Linked DNA regions of Homo sapiens: region 2 is linked to region 1. Evidence: fine-mapped expression QTL. A gene starts in region 1. The other region holds a variant in brackets. All regions are shown on one strand. Distances are from middle to middle.

Region 1 (8,338 bases):
CCAACGTGGAGAAACCCCGTCTCTACTAAAAATACAAAATTAGCCAGGCGTGGTGGTGCATGCCTGTAATCCCAGCTACTACTTGGGAGGCTGAGGCAGGAGAATCGCTTGAACCCCAGAGGTAGAGGTTGCAGTGAGCCGAGATCGCACCATTGCACTCCAGCCTGGTCAGCAAGAGCAAAACTACGTCTCAAAAAAAAAAAAGATTTTTTTTTTAAACAAAAAAACTATTAATCCTTTTTTTTGAATGTAGAGAGAAAAATGTAAGGCATCTTATCCATAATTTTCCACTTGGAATTTGATTACATTGCAGCTATAAATTAATTTGGGGAAAAGTAGAAAAAAAATCCAGATCTGAAACTAACGTAACTGTTATTTAAATGTATCTTGTGCAGTTTTTAGATGATAATTATTATTAGTTCCCTTGGATGTTTTACCTACAGATTAATTCAGAGGGAAGAAAATAAATACTGAGTACTTAAAGGGCAAGTCATTGCTCTGGGAACTTACATACATTTCTCTATTTCATGCTAATAAAGACACAGATTTTATTATAATTATTAATGCATTTTTCAGATAGGGAAGCTTGAAGATCAGAGTGGATAAGTACTTTTGCAAGGTCACAGTGTTGAAGGAGCCTATACCTGTCTGATGTTAAAGCCTATGCTTTTTTTTCTACTACATAGGGGCTGAAACACAGACACAAGCACAGGTAAAATACCATCTTTGTCATCAAATTTCTTGTTGATCTTCATAGTTCTTATCCAATATTGAGAAATGTTGACTATAATATTTTTGTGGTAATTGGTGTGGATTATTTCAGCTCAGGAAAATGTCTTTTAAAAGCTGTGACTAGATAGCTTTTAATAAAATATGTCACAAAAAGTGTCAGACACTATCAGAAGACTTCGGGGTAGTTCCTTAAACCTTTAAATAAAACAAAAATAAAAACAAAACTTCAGTAAGAGGTTAAAAATGGTTACCTTTTATTGAGCGGTCACTATATATGTCAGGCATTATGTTAAGCAACTTAAATGTGTTATTTAAAGTTTCACAGCTGAGCCAGGCACAGTGGCTTACACCTGTAATCCTAGCACTTTGGGAGGCCGAGGCGGGTGGATTGTCTGAGCTCAAGAGTTTGAGACCAGCCTGGGCATTGTGCAACCCCATCTCTACTAAAATACAAAAAAATTAGTGGGATGTGGTGGCGCGCACCTGCAGTCTCAGCTACTTGGGAGGCTGAGGCACAAGAATTGTTTGAACATGGGAGGCAGAGGTTGCAGTAAGCCGAGATTGCGCCACTGCACCTCAGCCTGGGTGACAGAGTGAGACTCTGTCTCCAAAAGTTTCACAGCTGGGCAAGGTGGCTCATGCCTGTAATCCCAACACTTTGGGAGGCTGAAGTGGGAGGATCTCTTGAGTCCAGGAGTTCAAGACCAGCCTGGGTAATATACCAAGATCCCTCTTGACTTAAAAAAAAAAAAATTTTTTTAAGTTTCACAACAGCCCTATGAAAAATGCATGCTTATTTTCCCCATTTTACAGATGTGGAAAATGAAACCTGGGATGGCTAACTGACTTATCCAAAGTTACACAGCTATTAAGTGGTAGAAAAATGGGGACAAAATAGGCTGTTTGACTCCAAAGCCACCCCTCTAAGCCTCCAGGCTACAATGCTATAAAAGTCTACCAAATGAAAATCATGGGAGATAGAGAAAAAAGGACCTTTAATTTTAGTATATATGCTTCCAAAGAGAGCATGAGAAAAGGAACTGCAACAGAAAATTTCGCATGGCCCAAGATCAGTGACCAGGGTCACCATTTATTGCAATTAAGTTAGATGAGTTAACTACATTGTGTGATTTGGGGGTATAAGAGGGGCCAATGTAAAAAGCTCAAAGGTGGCCGGATGCAGAGGCTCACACCTGTAACCCCGGCACTTTGGGAGGCTGAGGCAGGCGGATCATTTGAGGTCAGGAGCTCGAGACCAGACTGACCAGCATGGTGAAACCCCATCTCTACTAAAAACACAAAAAAACTAGCTGGGCGTGGTTGCGCCTGCCTGTAGTCACAGCTAATCGGGAGGCTGAGGCAGGACAATTGCTTGAAACCGGGAGGCAGAAGTTGCAGTGAGCCGAGATCGCGCCACTGCACTCCAGCCTGGGCAACAGAGTGAGACTCCGTCGAAAAAAAAAAAAAAAAAAAGCTCAAAGGTATCTTCAGGTCAGTCACCTCCTACCCCTTTTCTCATTTTATTTTCTTTATAGCATTCACTTATCAATTATTTATTATTGATAAGTGAAATTGTTTTATTACTAATATTTTATTAGTAAAATTATTTTATCTCTAATCATTTGCCTCACCTCACTAGACCATAACTTCAATAAAATCAAGAACCGTGTCTTTCTTACTAAATGCTGTATTTCCAGAGTCCGAAGTTGTGCCTGACATAAATATTTGTTGAATGAATGCATAAATGTCTGCCCTTCCCTGAACTTTAATGGCAAAGACTTAGATTTACAAACTGGTTCAAAAGACTATATTACAAAGGCATGCATTATTAGAAATATTTTATTGTTTAGTTTCTTAGATTGGCTAGGATACACTGAAAAAAGAAGAGGAAGCTGGAGAAAAGGGGGAAAGAGCATATGTACTGGTAATGATAACACCTAAGTTATAGGGGTTGGTGGGGGGGTGGTGAAACCTAAAAAATCCAGAGCCTTCATGAGCGAAGTGCCGAAAATTGATGAGGCTCTCTGGTGTGGGATAAAAACCACCACAAAAGCTAACTTCTCAATTTTGTCTCAGAAATTCTGCTACCATAAAGATTTATGGAAAGAAAGTGAAAGTTATTTAGTTCATTTTAATATGCTAATTACCTTGCATCGTGCACAGCTTTGATTAAAATGCAACATTCCTGAAGTTCTTATTGAAATTAATGTGTCAAATTTATGTTCAAACTGAGCACTGGTCTACCTTGTTTATGTATAGTGGGTTCTTCCTGAAGATCCATTATTGATGCTATTATGCTCCTTGTATCATTACATCATTGTTGAGAAGGGTGTACAGGAATAGGCTATGAGAACAACAAAGGAATTGTATATGAAAAACTAAAATGAATGAATAAACAGAGTCGTCTGCAGTATAGAGTGGGAAGGCAAATAATTTCAATGAGGTTCTGGAGGGCCAAGGAAAACATTGTATCCCCTAAAACGGAAGATAAAGTTGCTAAATGTGTGGATTACAATAGGGGATTCTAGGCAGTTTGAAGTTTCAATAAATGCAAGATTTAGAGAAGAGGTTCTCAAACTTTGTGGTCTTAGGATTCCTTTACACTCCTTTAAAAGTTGAGGACCCCAAAGAACTTTTATGTGCATTACTGATACTGATATTTATATCAGAAATTAAAAGTGAGAAATTTTAAGAGTATTTCATTTAAAAACAATAAAGCAATCAAATATTAACAAAAAATAATTTTTATATGAAAAATAACTACTCCCCCTTGCCCCCAAATCGAGTTTTTGCAAATCTCTTTAACGTCTGGTTTAACCGCAGATGACTGGATTCTCCTATCTGCTTCTATTTTCAGTCTGTTTCCTTATCACATGTCACGTAGCCTCCGGAAAACCCCACTGTACACTTGTGAGAGAATGAGAATGCAAAAGGCAGTCTTGACATTAATATGGAAATAGTTTTGACCTTCCCCATGAAAGGGTCTGGGGACCCTCAGACCATACTCTGAGAACAACTTTTTGAGTTAGTATTAGTCAATTCATCATCACTTGAAAATTAGCTATGAGGTTTTACAAGCCTGAGGATTTAATGTGATTTACTTTTTCAGAAAGATGAAACAACGGACGTACTGAGTGTCCTCATTATAACGCATCCAGAGAATGCACAAATATGCCATTTTCATCCGTCAAAAGAACTGAAGCCGAACTGACGGACTGTACATCAGTTACGAGGATGTGGCGGGGGGTTGGGGGGCAAAGGATGACGAGCACCCCCTAAAGGCGCGGAGACCCGCTGGCATAGGAGAAGCAAAACTGTCAGAAGAGGCCGCCGAAGTGGTCTAGAGGAAAAAACTGTTTTTCTTAGGCGGGGAAGGAAAACGGTTACCGGGGGCCGGCGAGTTGCAGGAATTAGGCCTTGACAGGGAGCGTCCGCCGTCTAGGCTGCGGCGAGCGAGGGACCAGGCGACTGGCGCCAGCCCTGAGCGTTCCCAGCACAACGCCGAAGGGGGCGGGGCGGGCCGGGCGCCGGGCACGCGGGCCAGGCCTTCCCCACAACTGATGGGGTTGAAATTTCCTTTCCGGCTCAGCAGGGAGAAAAGATATGGTGGGGTGCTTAACAGAGGAGGTTAGACACCGGCGGGAACCAGAGGAGCCCAAGCGCGGCGCCTGGGCCTCGGGGCTGCAGGAGTCCTCGGTGGGGGTATGGAGGTCGCCGGGGAAGGAGGACGGTTCAGTTGCTAGGCAACCCGGCCTGGACCCGCCTCTCGCTCGCGTTGCTGGGAGACTACAAGGCCGGGAGGAGGGCGGCGAAAGGGCCCTACGTGCTGACGCTAATTGTATATGAGCGCGAGCGGCGGGCTCTTGGGTCTTTTTTAGCGCCATCTGCTCGCGGCGCCGCCTCCTGCTCCTCCCGCTGCTGCTGCCGCTGCCGCCCTGAGTCACTGCCTGCGCAGCTCCGGCCGCCTGGCTCCCCATACTAGTCGCCGGTAACGGATGGGGGCCTGGAAGGGAAGGGGGAACGTGGTGTTGGCTGGGCGGCCTGCGCAGATGGGAGGGCCGGAGGGATGGAGGGACTGGGAGCCGGGAGTCGGGGCCGCTGGCCGCCCGTGGCCTCCGGGGTCGTCCTGTGAGGTCGGACAGGACCGCGGAGTCCGGACCCCGGAGCCTGAGAGGGGCCCCGGGGCCGACCAGCGCTTTTATCGGGGACGGCTGAGGCGACGTAGGGGTTGGCGCGGCCTGGAGGCCTAAGGTTCTCTGAGCTCCACCGTCTTTTCCGCGTGGACCGGAGCGAGGCCGCGGTGACGCCCGGGTGCCCTGAGACTCGGCTGCGCCGCGAGGACCGGGAGGCCCCCGGCGTACGGGCCGGGCCGAGTGCAGAGCCGGCCGCCTCTTGGACACCCCCCTGCTTTTCCCTCAAAAATAATACCAGGAGGGAGGCCGCTGGGAGATGAAAAGAACGGCGGAGGCTGCGAATTCCGACGGGAGGGAGGGGCTGTGGAGGGACGAGTCCCCGAGGCGGGGAGGGGGCGGGGGAGGCTGCGACGCTCCCGGGCTCTCCGCCCATTGGGGGCGGCCGCGCGGGGAGGGGAAACCCCCGGCGGCTTCGCTCCACACGTGGTAATGGGCTTCATGGCCACTGGCTGGGCCTGGTTGGAGACCCTTGCCCTCGGTCTGTGCTTACTTTGAAAGTTGTAGAGACGGTGGAATGTGAAAAGGAAGGGTAAGCGAGTAAGCCCTGTCCCTGGGTTTCAAACTCTTCCCTGCTTCTCTTTGGTCTTAATCTTTTTATTGGTACCAGAGATTGTGGATGTTAGCTGATGATAAGGAAGGGCCTCCACTGCTAGTATTTTAAAAAGTTAACGCGTATATAGCGCTTATATTAACTGTTATTAGCAAAAGGTTGTTATTGTGTTTCCCAGGTACTGTTAGATGGGTGTCTTGATCAGGGTTTTTTATTTGGGGAGTATTGATCCTGATCGATCTAAACCCCTAAACCAAGCTTGTCCAACCCGCGGCCCAGGACGGCTTTAAATGTGGCCCAACACAAATTCATGAGGTTTTTTTTTTTTTTTTTTTTTTGGAAAAAAAAGCTCATCAGCTAGTTAATGTATTTTACGTGTGGCCCAAGACAGTTCTAGTGTGGCCCAGGGAAGCCAAAAGATCGGACCACCCCTGCAAACGGTTCTTAGATGAAAATAAAATGTTTGGCCCTTTATGACTTTAATTGTTCTTGGCTGTCTTATAAATTAGTTCCTTTATTGAAGTCACTAGAATAAGATACTTAACGGTTTCCTTTTTAAGATGGGAGGTGGGATGGAATGAGGTGTTAGTATAAACTTTGCCAAGTTTGTAGCCTGCAACCTTGTCAATGAACCCTACTGCCCTAAAGATCTGGGGGATGGCAGTGTAGGGGGGCTGGGACTGAGGTCCCATCTGGGAAGGCTAGACTTTGAGAGTGCAAAAAGGATGAACCAGGCGCAGGATGTCCTCAAGGAGCCCGTATTTTAGACGGTCACTGATCAGTTTTGAAACAACTACATTTTAAAAATCTCACTGCTACATTTGAAGATATCCCACTGCTGCATTTTAAAATTTACACTGCTTGCCTGGTTTCACAAGAGCTGTAAAATGAAATTTGGCCTTTTGAAAATAGGTGGATTCAAAACATCTTTGGAAACGAGTATCTGGGTCCTCTTTTTTTGGTCAGCTTAAATTAATACTCCTATACTTTGGAAGTAATATACATTACCTTTGATTGAATAAGGGAAAAACCTTTTATGTATAGGGTACCATTTAAAAATCGAAGGGAAGTAAATGACTTTTACAGTTATTTTCAAGGCACTCTTGTGTTTCAAGCTTGTTTGAAGTTGCCCAAGTTTAAATAAATGGCCTAAATCTATAGTTTAGTTCTAAGAATACTGTCCTTTGGAGAATGTATGGAACTAAACCCTGGTAGGTGGACTTGGACATCTTCTGTCATAAAACCTGACTTTCATAGATTCTCCAAGTCAACATTATGTTAGTAAATAGAAATTTAAAAGTTTTCACTATACCAATTTGAATATCTTTCTAAATTTTATCTGCTACAAAGTGCCTATTTTTATATTAGGCCCATTGATTTGCAGAATTATAAAGCTAATACTGAATATGGTAAATTACTGCACTTGGCCTTTAATGAGATTTTTGAAACGAATACCTGTACCATAACTAATGTAATCCAAAATGCCATCTCATTTTATTCAGCTTGCTCCTGTTGGCTCCTGGTAAAACTGAGTTGATTCTAAATTCTCAAAATATATTCAAAACTAAGGGTCTTTTTGTAGAAGGGGCTAAAGAAGCAGTATCTGTTGGACTTCAAAGGTCTGAAGATGTCAAAATACAATATTTTATTCACTTCTTGGTTGTAAATTTGAAACAAAGGATTAGAGAGAATGACTCATCAATATCAAAATATTAATGATCAGTGTATTCAGATCTTCAAGTTTAATCAAACCTGTAATTGTGTTCTCAGTTTAGTCTTTGGGTAACTATCTAGCACCTGTATGGACATGTATCTTATGTCATGAGCAAAAGAGGCAAATTGGTTGCTTAGATGTAGAATGTTAAATTGTGATGAGAGCTATAAAGGAAGGAAAGGGTAAAGGGGTCAAAGAGTAATACAGCGTTTACACAAAGGAACCTGTTATAATTTGATGATTTTAAGTTCCATTTCAAACTAGTTTCATCTAAATAAGTTTTTGGGCAGAATAGGGGTTAGAAGGAGAGAGTTGTTACTTTACACCTATCCATATGTAAGTCGTTTAGCACAATGACTACAGAACATTAGAGTACATTAGTGGGCTTGCCATAGAAAATGGCTTCTATACCTTTGGTTACCAACTCTGCCTTTTACTTCCTGCATATTTGTATATATTTTTACTTATTCAGAAGTTTTGTACATTTTAATTTTTATTGGGAAACAGGGTTATATATATTTTTTCCTTGTGGAGACAGGCTCTTGCTGTGTTGCCCTGGCTGGTCTTAAATGCCTCACCTCAAGCGATTTTGCCTTGGCCTCCCAAAGTGCTGAGTGTATGGGTGTGAGCCACCACACCTGTCTAGAGTTATAATTTCAGTCTTGGAATTATTTTCTAAAGAGGGTACAGAAGAGCATAACAGGGATAAATAATGTAATAGGCAACACTGATTGATTATTCAGGCATTGTTTTAAATTCTGTGTGTATTATTAGCTCATTTAATTTACTTAGAGACAGGTAGCATCAACATTTTAACAAGGAAAAAAAATAGGTGTGGAGTGGTTAGATAACCCGTCCGTGGTTACGTACGTGAGCAGTGATAACTTATGATGAGATAATTTTTATCCTGGTTTTGAAAGAATGTTGACTTACACTGTTCTGCTATAAATCAGCATGAATATTAGTTCATTTTCTGTTGCTTAGAATACCTGAAACTGAGTAATTTATTTAAAAAAAAAGAATTTATTTCTTGCAGTTATAGAGGCTGAGAAATCCAAGATCGAGGGGACCCATGTGGTGAGAACCTTACTTGTGGAGACTCTGAAGGTTCCCAAGGCAGTACAGGGTATCACATGGGGAGGGGGCTGA
Region 2 (8,338 bases), 500 kb before region 1:
CACCATGCCTGCCATCTCAAGTGATGACTATCACTCTGCTCTGGCCAAGTTATATGTCAAATCACAAAGGTGAAATGAGATGACTGTCAGGTCATATGTTTGAGGGGGAGGAATGGAATTACAAAGAAAGGGATACCATGACACTTGGAGAAAGAGTTATGAGGAAAGAAAACCAATGGGGTGCTTAAGAAAAGGGCTTGAGTCAGAGTCAGCTGGATACCATGTCTGACACAGTGAACTATGATAATCCTCACAAAACATTTCTAAAATGATTGCCTTAGGATTGCACTGGCTGCATGGCCAGGGTTCTCATTTCTCATTTCCTTTTCTTAGAATTAAGGTGATGCTCTTTGAAATGTCTAAAGATAGATGACTACCATTGGTAGTCAACCCTGAGGTTTTTTATGTACAGGCCCAGCACTGAGCTAAGTGTTTTGTATGCAATTGCACAACATCTTTATGAGGATAGATGCTATTATTATCTGTTTCTCTAAGCATGGGGAAACTGTTAACCTCAGGGTGTTGAGTAACTTGCCCAACATCATACAGCTAGTAAATAACAGAGCCAAGACCCAAGACCTAGGCCCGCATTTGCTGGCTTAAAAGTTTAAGCTTTTTGCTTTTTTTTTTTTTTTCCAGTGGTGCTATCTAAGCTTACTGCAACCTCTGTCTCCCAGGTTCAAGCAATTATTCTGCCTCAGCCTCCCAAGTAGTTGAGATTGCAGGCATGCACCCCCATGCCTGGCTAATTTTTAAATTTTTAGTAGAGATGGGGTCTCACCATGTTGGCCAGGCTGGTCTCGAACTCCTGAACTCAGGTGATCCATCTGCCTCAGTCTCCCAAAGTGCTGGGATTACAGGTGTGAGCCACCGTGCCTGGCCCCAAGGTTAAGCTTTTAACCACTGCATCACACTGCACCTCAGGTTTCAAGATAGGGAAACTCAATTTTTAAAAATATTTATAAAGCATTTACATTTTTTCCATATCTCATTTTATAAAGTGTCTTAGCTAGTAAGCTTAAAAATTATTTTCTTCGGCCAGGCATGGTGGCTCATGCCTGTAATCGCAGCACTTTGGGAGGCCGAGGCTAGCAGATCACCTGAGGTCAGGAGTTTGAGACCAGCCTGGCCAACATGATGAAACCCCATCTCTACTAAAAATACAAAATTAGCCAGGCATGTTGGCACGTGCCTGTAATCCCAGCTACTTGGGAGGCTGAGGCAGGAGAGTCACTTGAATCTGGGAGGCAGAGGTTGCAGTGAGCTGAGATCACGCCATTGCACTCCAGCCTGGACAAAAAGAGCGAAACTCTGTTTCAAAACAAAAATAAATAAATAAAATAAAATAATTTTCTTATCAAGAAAATGCAAATTAATCTGCAGTGACAGAGAGTGGATCAGTGGTAACTTGAGGATGGGAAAGTCCCAAGAGTGGCAGGAAGAAGAAATTACAAAATAGCATGAAGAAACTTTCGGGAATGAAAATCAAAATTTGTAAACATATTTATCACTGCCAAAAGTTAAAGAGTCTTGCTCAAGATTAGCCTGAGAGTTAGTAGCAGAGACAGGATAAAAATATAGTTTTTAAGCTTCTTGAACAAGTGTTTTTTTCCTCTCAATTTGGTAAATTATTTCCATATGGTTTTAAAAAGGATATGAAGAGACATAAAATATGACATGAGTATTATAGAAAGAAAATTGTGTTTAGGAATTTTGGGCAGCACTATTCACAATAGCAAAGACATGGAATCAGTCTAAATGCCCATCAATGGTAGACTGAATAAAGAAAATGTGGTACATAGACACCATGGAATACTATGCAGCCATAAAAAAGAATGAGATCATGTCTTTTGTGGGAACATGGATTGAGCTGGAGGCCATTAGCCTTACCAAACTAACACAGGAACAGAAAACCAAATACTGCATGTTCTCACTTATAAGTGAGAGCTAAATGATGAGAACTCATGGACACAAACAGGGGAAAAACAGACACTGGGGCCTACTTGAGGGTGGAGGGTGAGAGAAGAGAGAGGAGCAGAAAAAATAACTTCTGGGTACTAGGCTTAGTACCAGGGTAACGAAATAATCTGTAAAACAAACCCCCATGACATGAGTTTACCTATATAACAAACGTGCACATGTACTCCTCAACCTAAAACAAAAGTTAAAGAAGAAAGGGAGCCTGTGAAGCCCCTCAGTCACTCCTCCTACATCTCATCCTGTTCTCCCACTGATCTAGCTTAAAGTCTTCCTGCTGGAACATTTCACCCTATACCAGGTGGTGGGGAAAAAAATTTTTTTTATTAACTTACGTATCTCAATTGAGCATTGGAAGTCTATTGTGAATTCATCTGATGAAAAAGTTGAATGCATCTCTTCAGAAGTTTATCATTATCATCTGCAATCTACTGAGAACTTTTTAAAAAATGAATCCTGCAATTGTATGGCCAGCAGGGGGCAACTAAATACTTCCCAAAACAGCATCTTGTATAAGAGAACAAGTTAAAATTGGAGACTGTTAGCATTCTTAGCTGTGTAGGAGAGCTGACTTCCTTCTAAAATGATAATTAACACCTAGACACATTCTCACAATACTGAATTTGTGAAGATAATTGGAACAGTTTCCTAAGTGGACAGATTATAAAACCACATTCTGGGGCCTGTATGTGGCAGATTTGTTTTGGCTGTTTTTTCAGTCCACAAGGTTCCTTGCAAAAATTTATGTATTTTATGATGAATAGCTTTGTAAAACTTCTTGTATTATAGAAAATATAATGAATCTTGACTTATTTCTGTAGGTTATTTTAGAATTCTGCTATTTTTACTTAACATTCAAAGATAAAAGTAAATAGGGATTGCAGAGGATCTTGTTCTTAAAGTATAATAAAGAATCATTTCTTAGCCCTGTTTTATAGAACTAATTTTTAAGCTTGTTATATTAGTTAGGGTTGTCCAGAGAAACCAAACCAACAGAATGTGTATACATATAGATATTATAGATATAGATGTTTATTTTAAGGAATTGGCACACATGATTGTGGGGACTCAGTTTCTGCTTGAGTCCAAAGGCAACCTGCTGGCAGAATTCCTTCCTTCTCTGGGGAGGTCAGTCTTTGATTTATGAAGGCCTTCAACCGATTGATGAGGCCCGTCCATATTATGGAAAGTAATCTGCTTTACTTAAAATCCACTGGTTAAAATGTTAATCTCATCCAAAAACACCTTCACCAAAACATCCAGAATAACGTTTAACCAAATATCTGGGTACCACAGCCCAGCCAAGTTGTCAAATAAAATAACCATCACAGTTGCCTATTTCTTTACATCACAGTCTCAAAGTCGTAGGAGATCTATATGGTGAAATAGCTCAACCCTCCTCCAGATGCAGCTGCAATGCCTGGCAAAGAGAAAGCATTTAGCAAATATATGCTGATTTGAATTGAACTGAATGTATATGAATTGAATTAAATATCCCTAGTGGTGGCTAGGTTCTGCCAGGCTTCCAGTGCGGTGCTGGGAGGTAATGGAAGATAGAAGTTAGGCACAGGCTCTGGAGTCAGATAGGTCCATATGCTGAGGCTCCCCTACTTACCTTATATGTACCTTTGGATGAATAACTTAATTTTTCTAAGCCTACATTTCTTCACCTATATAAAAACAACAGTCATAATAGCTATTTATGCTACATATTGCTTTGTTAATCAATATTTACTTCTCTTTCCTTTCTGGCCACTCAGTGGATTGACTGTATTCCTCAGCGACCCTACAACTGAATGGAGCCATGTGACTTGGTCTGGCCAGTGAAAACTGTAGATTTTACGTGTGTCACCTTCAGGATGTGGCAGTAAAAGGTCGATATGAAATTTTTTTCTTTCCCGACTGTGGCAACCATGGAAAAAGATTCATCTTAAGATGGCAGCACCACAAGGTTGAAGCTGCCTGGATTATCACGTTGTTGCATGGAAGACAGTTGCCTGGAGAGTTGCCTGCAGCCAGAGCTAACTTTTTGTTAAACATTTGCTTTTTCTCCCAACTGCAGCACAACCTAGACTATTCTCATGTATTGTCTCACAGAGTTGTTTTGAGGATTCAATCAGATATTGTTTCGCAGGAAACTGCTCATTTGACAAGCCATAAGCACTCAAATGTTATAATTATGATATTTCTTTGCCTTGATCATTATAGCAATTCAAAACTCAAACAATAAAATTAGAGTACCAGGTAACTTTTGTTTAAAGTATTAGTATTCTAACTCTTTAAACTTCTCCTCTGAACACTGCCTTGCACACAGTAGGCATTCATAAATAAACAAAAAAA[A/T]TTTTTTTTTTTTGAGACAGGGTCTCACTCTGTCACCCAGGCTTTAACATGGTGCTACAACCAAGGCTCACTTTAGCCTTGACCTCCTGGGCTCAAGCAATCCTCCTGTGTCGGACTCCCAAGATACTGGGATTACAGACATAAGCTGCCACACTTGGCTGCTGGGATATTTTATTCCCTTATTGTTAGACTGGCAAGATTTAAGTTTATTTCTTTTGCTAGACCTAGGTTCTCATAAAACAACTACTTTTGGTTAGAGTTACCTATTAAAAAATGTATTACTATCCTGTCATTAATGGGGCTTAGGCAGTGATAGCTGCTCACACATCTTAACTCTTCCCTGAATTCAGACCCAATTGATAGGAAGCCAAAAAGATAAAATACCAACTTCTCGGCTTGGCATGGTGGCTCATGACTATAAGCCCAGCACTTCAGAAGGCCGAGGTGGGAGAGTTGCTTGAGTCCAGGAGTTCAAGATCAGCCTAGCATAGGGAGACTCCATCTCTACAAAATGTTTGAAAAATTAGCCAGGCATGTGGCATATGTCTGTAGTCCCAGCTACTTGGGAGACTGAGGTAGGAGGATCGCTTGAGCCAAGGAGGTAGAGGCTGCAGTGAGCAGTGATATTATGCCATTGCACTCCAGCCTGGGTGACAGAGTGAGACTTCATTTCAAAAAAGCTTCCTAAGATAAAGCTGATTGGATGTATTATAATATACAACCATGACCAGGTTTTTCAATATTTCTTTTTTTTTTTTTTAGACGGAGTCTCACTCTGTCACCCAGGCTGGAGTGCAGTGGCGTGATCTCAGCTCACTGCAACCTCTGCCTCCTGGGTTCAAGCAATTCTCCTGCCTCAGCCTCCCGAGTAGCTGGGATTACAGGCACCTGCCACCATGCCCAGCTAATTTTTGTATTTTTGGTAGAGACGGGGTTTCACCATGTTGGCCAAGCTGGTCAAATACTTCCTAAGTCCAAATGGGTGATGACTCGCCACAGGAGAATTTGAGTCTGCACGATGGATAGACTTGTGTAGAATCACTGTTTCTGCTTGGTGAGATCAACAGTAGAAAGAATGAGAGTTAGGCCTCAGGCCTGTTCTAGAAGACAAGCATAGGCCCTAATCCGTGTGTTTTTAGTTTATGACATATATTGAGGAACTGAGCAGAATATAATTTCTTGTGGGTGGGAAGATTTGAAAAAGATGGCAAGAAATGGCTTGGGTTTTATGTTTTTCTCCCCAAATCACCAATTAAATACAAAACTCCTTCCACTTGGGGAAAGTGGCAGAAAGAAAGATGAAATTTCCTCTTGACTCTATAGTTCTGAAAGAAACATATTTCTATTTTAAGAGCCAGGTAGGAAAACTGTGAGGCAGAGAAGATGGTTCCTTTTAATATAAACAAATAAATTATTGTTCTTGTGGTCTGAATGTTTATGTTCCCCCAAAATTCAAATGTTGAACTCCTCACCTCCAAAATGATGGTATTGGGAGGCGGGGCATTTGGGATATTATTAGATTATAGGGTTATTTCCCTCATTAATAAGATTACTGCCATTATAAAATGGGCCTGAGAGAGAACCCTCAGCCCTTCCACCGTGTGAGGTTAGAATGAGAAGACAGCTGTCTATGAGGAAGTAGACCCTTACCAGACACTGCATCTGCCAGTATCGTATCTTAAACTTCTTAGCCTCTAGAGCTTTGAAAAATAAATCTCTGTTTTTTATAAGCCACTCACACTATGGTATTTTGTTATAGCAGCATGAATGGACTAAGATACTTGTGATATTCTTGTAAGTTTTTATGTTCTGAAGTTACCTTATAATTATATAAGAAATAGGGTTTTTATGATATACTAAAAATCAATTAATTAGTACAAAAATTAAAAGTATCAAGAAGAAGTCACATATGCTAACATTTTTAGTGATAATTTTTCCTAACTTCCTCCCTACTTTTTGCTGGTAATAAAGTTTTCCTAATTTTTACTCATAATAAACTAATCCACAGGAAACATTCAATAGCAAATCATGTATAAATACTTAGCATATACTATGTGCAAAATACTTTGCCAAATGAGGGGATACAGACATTTAAAAAAATCAGTCCTGATCTTACAGTCTAGGGAAAGAAACAGATTTCAAAAAATATATTTACAATATGGTGTGTTAAGCCATTCACAGTCCAATGAATGGACTATGACAAATTACCTGCTTAATATCCATTTTCTGCTTCTTCCTTAGTAACAGAAATCCAATTCAAGTTTGGATGACAACGTAAACTTAAAAATATCCTGTCTCTCTTGCAGCTAAGAGTGACCTTACAGATAGCACATTTCTTTTTAAAGAAGTAGAAATCTCCCAGGGATTTTGGAATAAGTTGTGTCAATTCAAGTTTCTTGATTTAGGCACTATCCTCCCTTTTATATTTAAAACATGTTTTGTGGCAAGAACACTTAACATGAGATCTACTCTCCTTTTTTTGAGACAGAGTCTCACTCTGTCACCCAGGCTGGAGTGCAGTGGCACGATCTCGGATCACTGCAACCTCTGCCTCCCAGGTTCAAGCAATTTTCCTGCCTCAGCCTCCCACATAGCTGGGACTACAAGCGCCTGCCACCACGCCCAGCTAATTATTGTGTTTTTAGTAGAGACGGGGTTTCACCATGTTGGTCAGCATGGTCTTGAACTCCTGACCTCGTGATCCACTAGCCTCGGCCTCCCAAAGTGCTGGGATTACAGGCATGAGCCACCGCGCCTGGCAGATTTACTCTTTTAACAAATTTTTTTTTTTTTTTTTTAGACGGAGTCTCGCTCTGTCACCCAGGCTGGAGTGCAGTGGCACAATCTCAGCTCACTGCAACCTCTGCCTCCCAGGTTCAAGAGATTCTCCTGCCTCAGCCTCCCAAGTAGCTGGGACTACAGGCACCTGGCATTTTTTTTGTATTTTTTAGTAGAGACGGGGTTTCACTGTGTTAGCCAGGATGGTCTCGATCTCCTAACCTCGTGATCTGCCCGCCTCAGCCTCCCAAAGTGCTGGGATTACAGGCGTGAGCCACTACACCTGGACTCTCTTAACAAATTTTTAAGAAAATAATACATTATTGAAATTGTACAATGTTGCACAGCAGATCTCTAGAGCTTATTTACCTTGCTTCACTGAAACTTTATGCCCATTAATTAGTAACTTCCGATTTCCTCCTTCCCCCAGCCCTTGGAAACTACCATTTCACTCATTGATTCTATGAATTTGATTATTTTAGATATCTCATAAAAGTGGAACCATGCAGTATTTATCTTCCTGTGACTAGCTTATTTCACTTAGCATGATGTCCTCAAGGTTCATCCATGTTGTCTCATATTGCAGAAATTCTTCTTTTTAAAGGCTGAATAGTATTCTATTGTATGTATTTGCCCACTTCATCCATTCATCTGTCAATGAACATTGAGTTTATTTCCACATTTTGGTTATTATGAATAGTGCTGCAATGAAAATAGGAGTACTAATATCTCTTTAAGATCTTGGTTCCAATTCTTTTGGACAAAGACCTAGAAGGGAGATTGCTGGATAAATGGTAGTTCTACTTTAAGTTTTTTGAGGAACATCCAGACTATTGTTTATTTTGCTTTTGTTGCCTGTGCATTTGGTGTCATATCCATAATATCACTGCCAAGACCAAAGTCATGAAGCTTTTAACGTTTTCTTCTAGGAGTTTTACTATTTTGAGTCTGATGTTTCTAATCTATTTTTATTTTTATTTTTTTAAGAGACTGGGTCTTTCTATGTTGCCCAGGCTGGTCTTGAATTCTTGGGCTCAATTGATCTTCCTGGCATAGCCTTATTTTTTTTTCTTTTTCTTTTTTTTTTTTTTTTTTTGAGACAGAGTTTCGTTCTTGTCGCCCAGGCTGGAGTGCAATGGCGCGATCTCGGCTCACCGCTACCTCTGCCTCCCGGGTACAAGTGATTCTCCTGCCTCAGCCTCCCGAGCAGCTGGGACTACAGGCATGCGCCACCACACCCAGC

What was found.
Region 2: its variant is fine-mapped to the expression of NAP1L1 in whole blood (TOPMed, PIP 0.93).

The regions. Positions count from the first base shown.
Region 1 is chr12:76,080,949-76,089,286 of GRCh38, reverse strand. NAP1L1 (nucleosome assembly protein 1 like 1) reads left to right here and starts at 4,602. Exons shown (of 15, transcript NM_004537.7): 1 at 4,602-4,720. It overlaps LOC124902970 (a long non-coding RNA gene), which reads right to left and starts at 4,202. Exons shown (of 2, transcript XR_007063379.1): 1 at 4,120-4,202; 2 at 2,554-3,076. RefSeq lists silencers at 4,168-4,327, 4,768-4,847, 4,988-5,037, 5,108-5,167, 5,218-5,287 and an enhancer at 4,331-4,872.
Region 2 is chr12:76,581,110-76,589,447 of GRCh38, reverse strand. All of the region lies in intron 3 of LOC105369850 (a long non-coding RNA gene), which reads right to left. Among named protein-coding and RNA genes, the nearest start is that of OSBPL8, 26 kb to the right of the region's middle. RefSeq lists silencers at 93-293, 5,243-5,443. The variant A/T (reference allele first, on the strand shown) is at 4,318.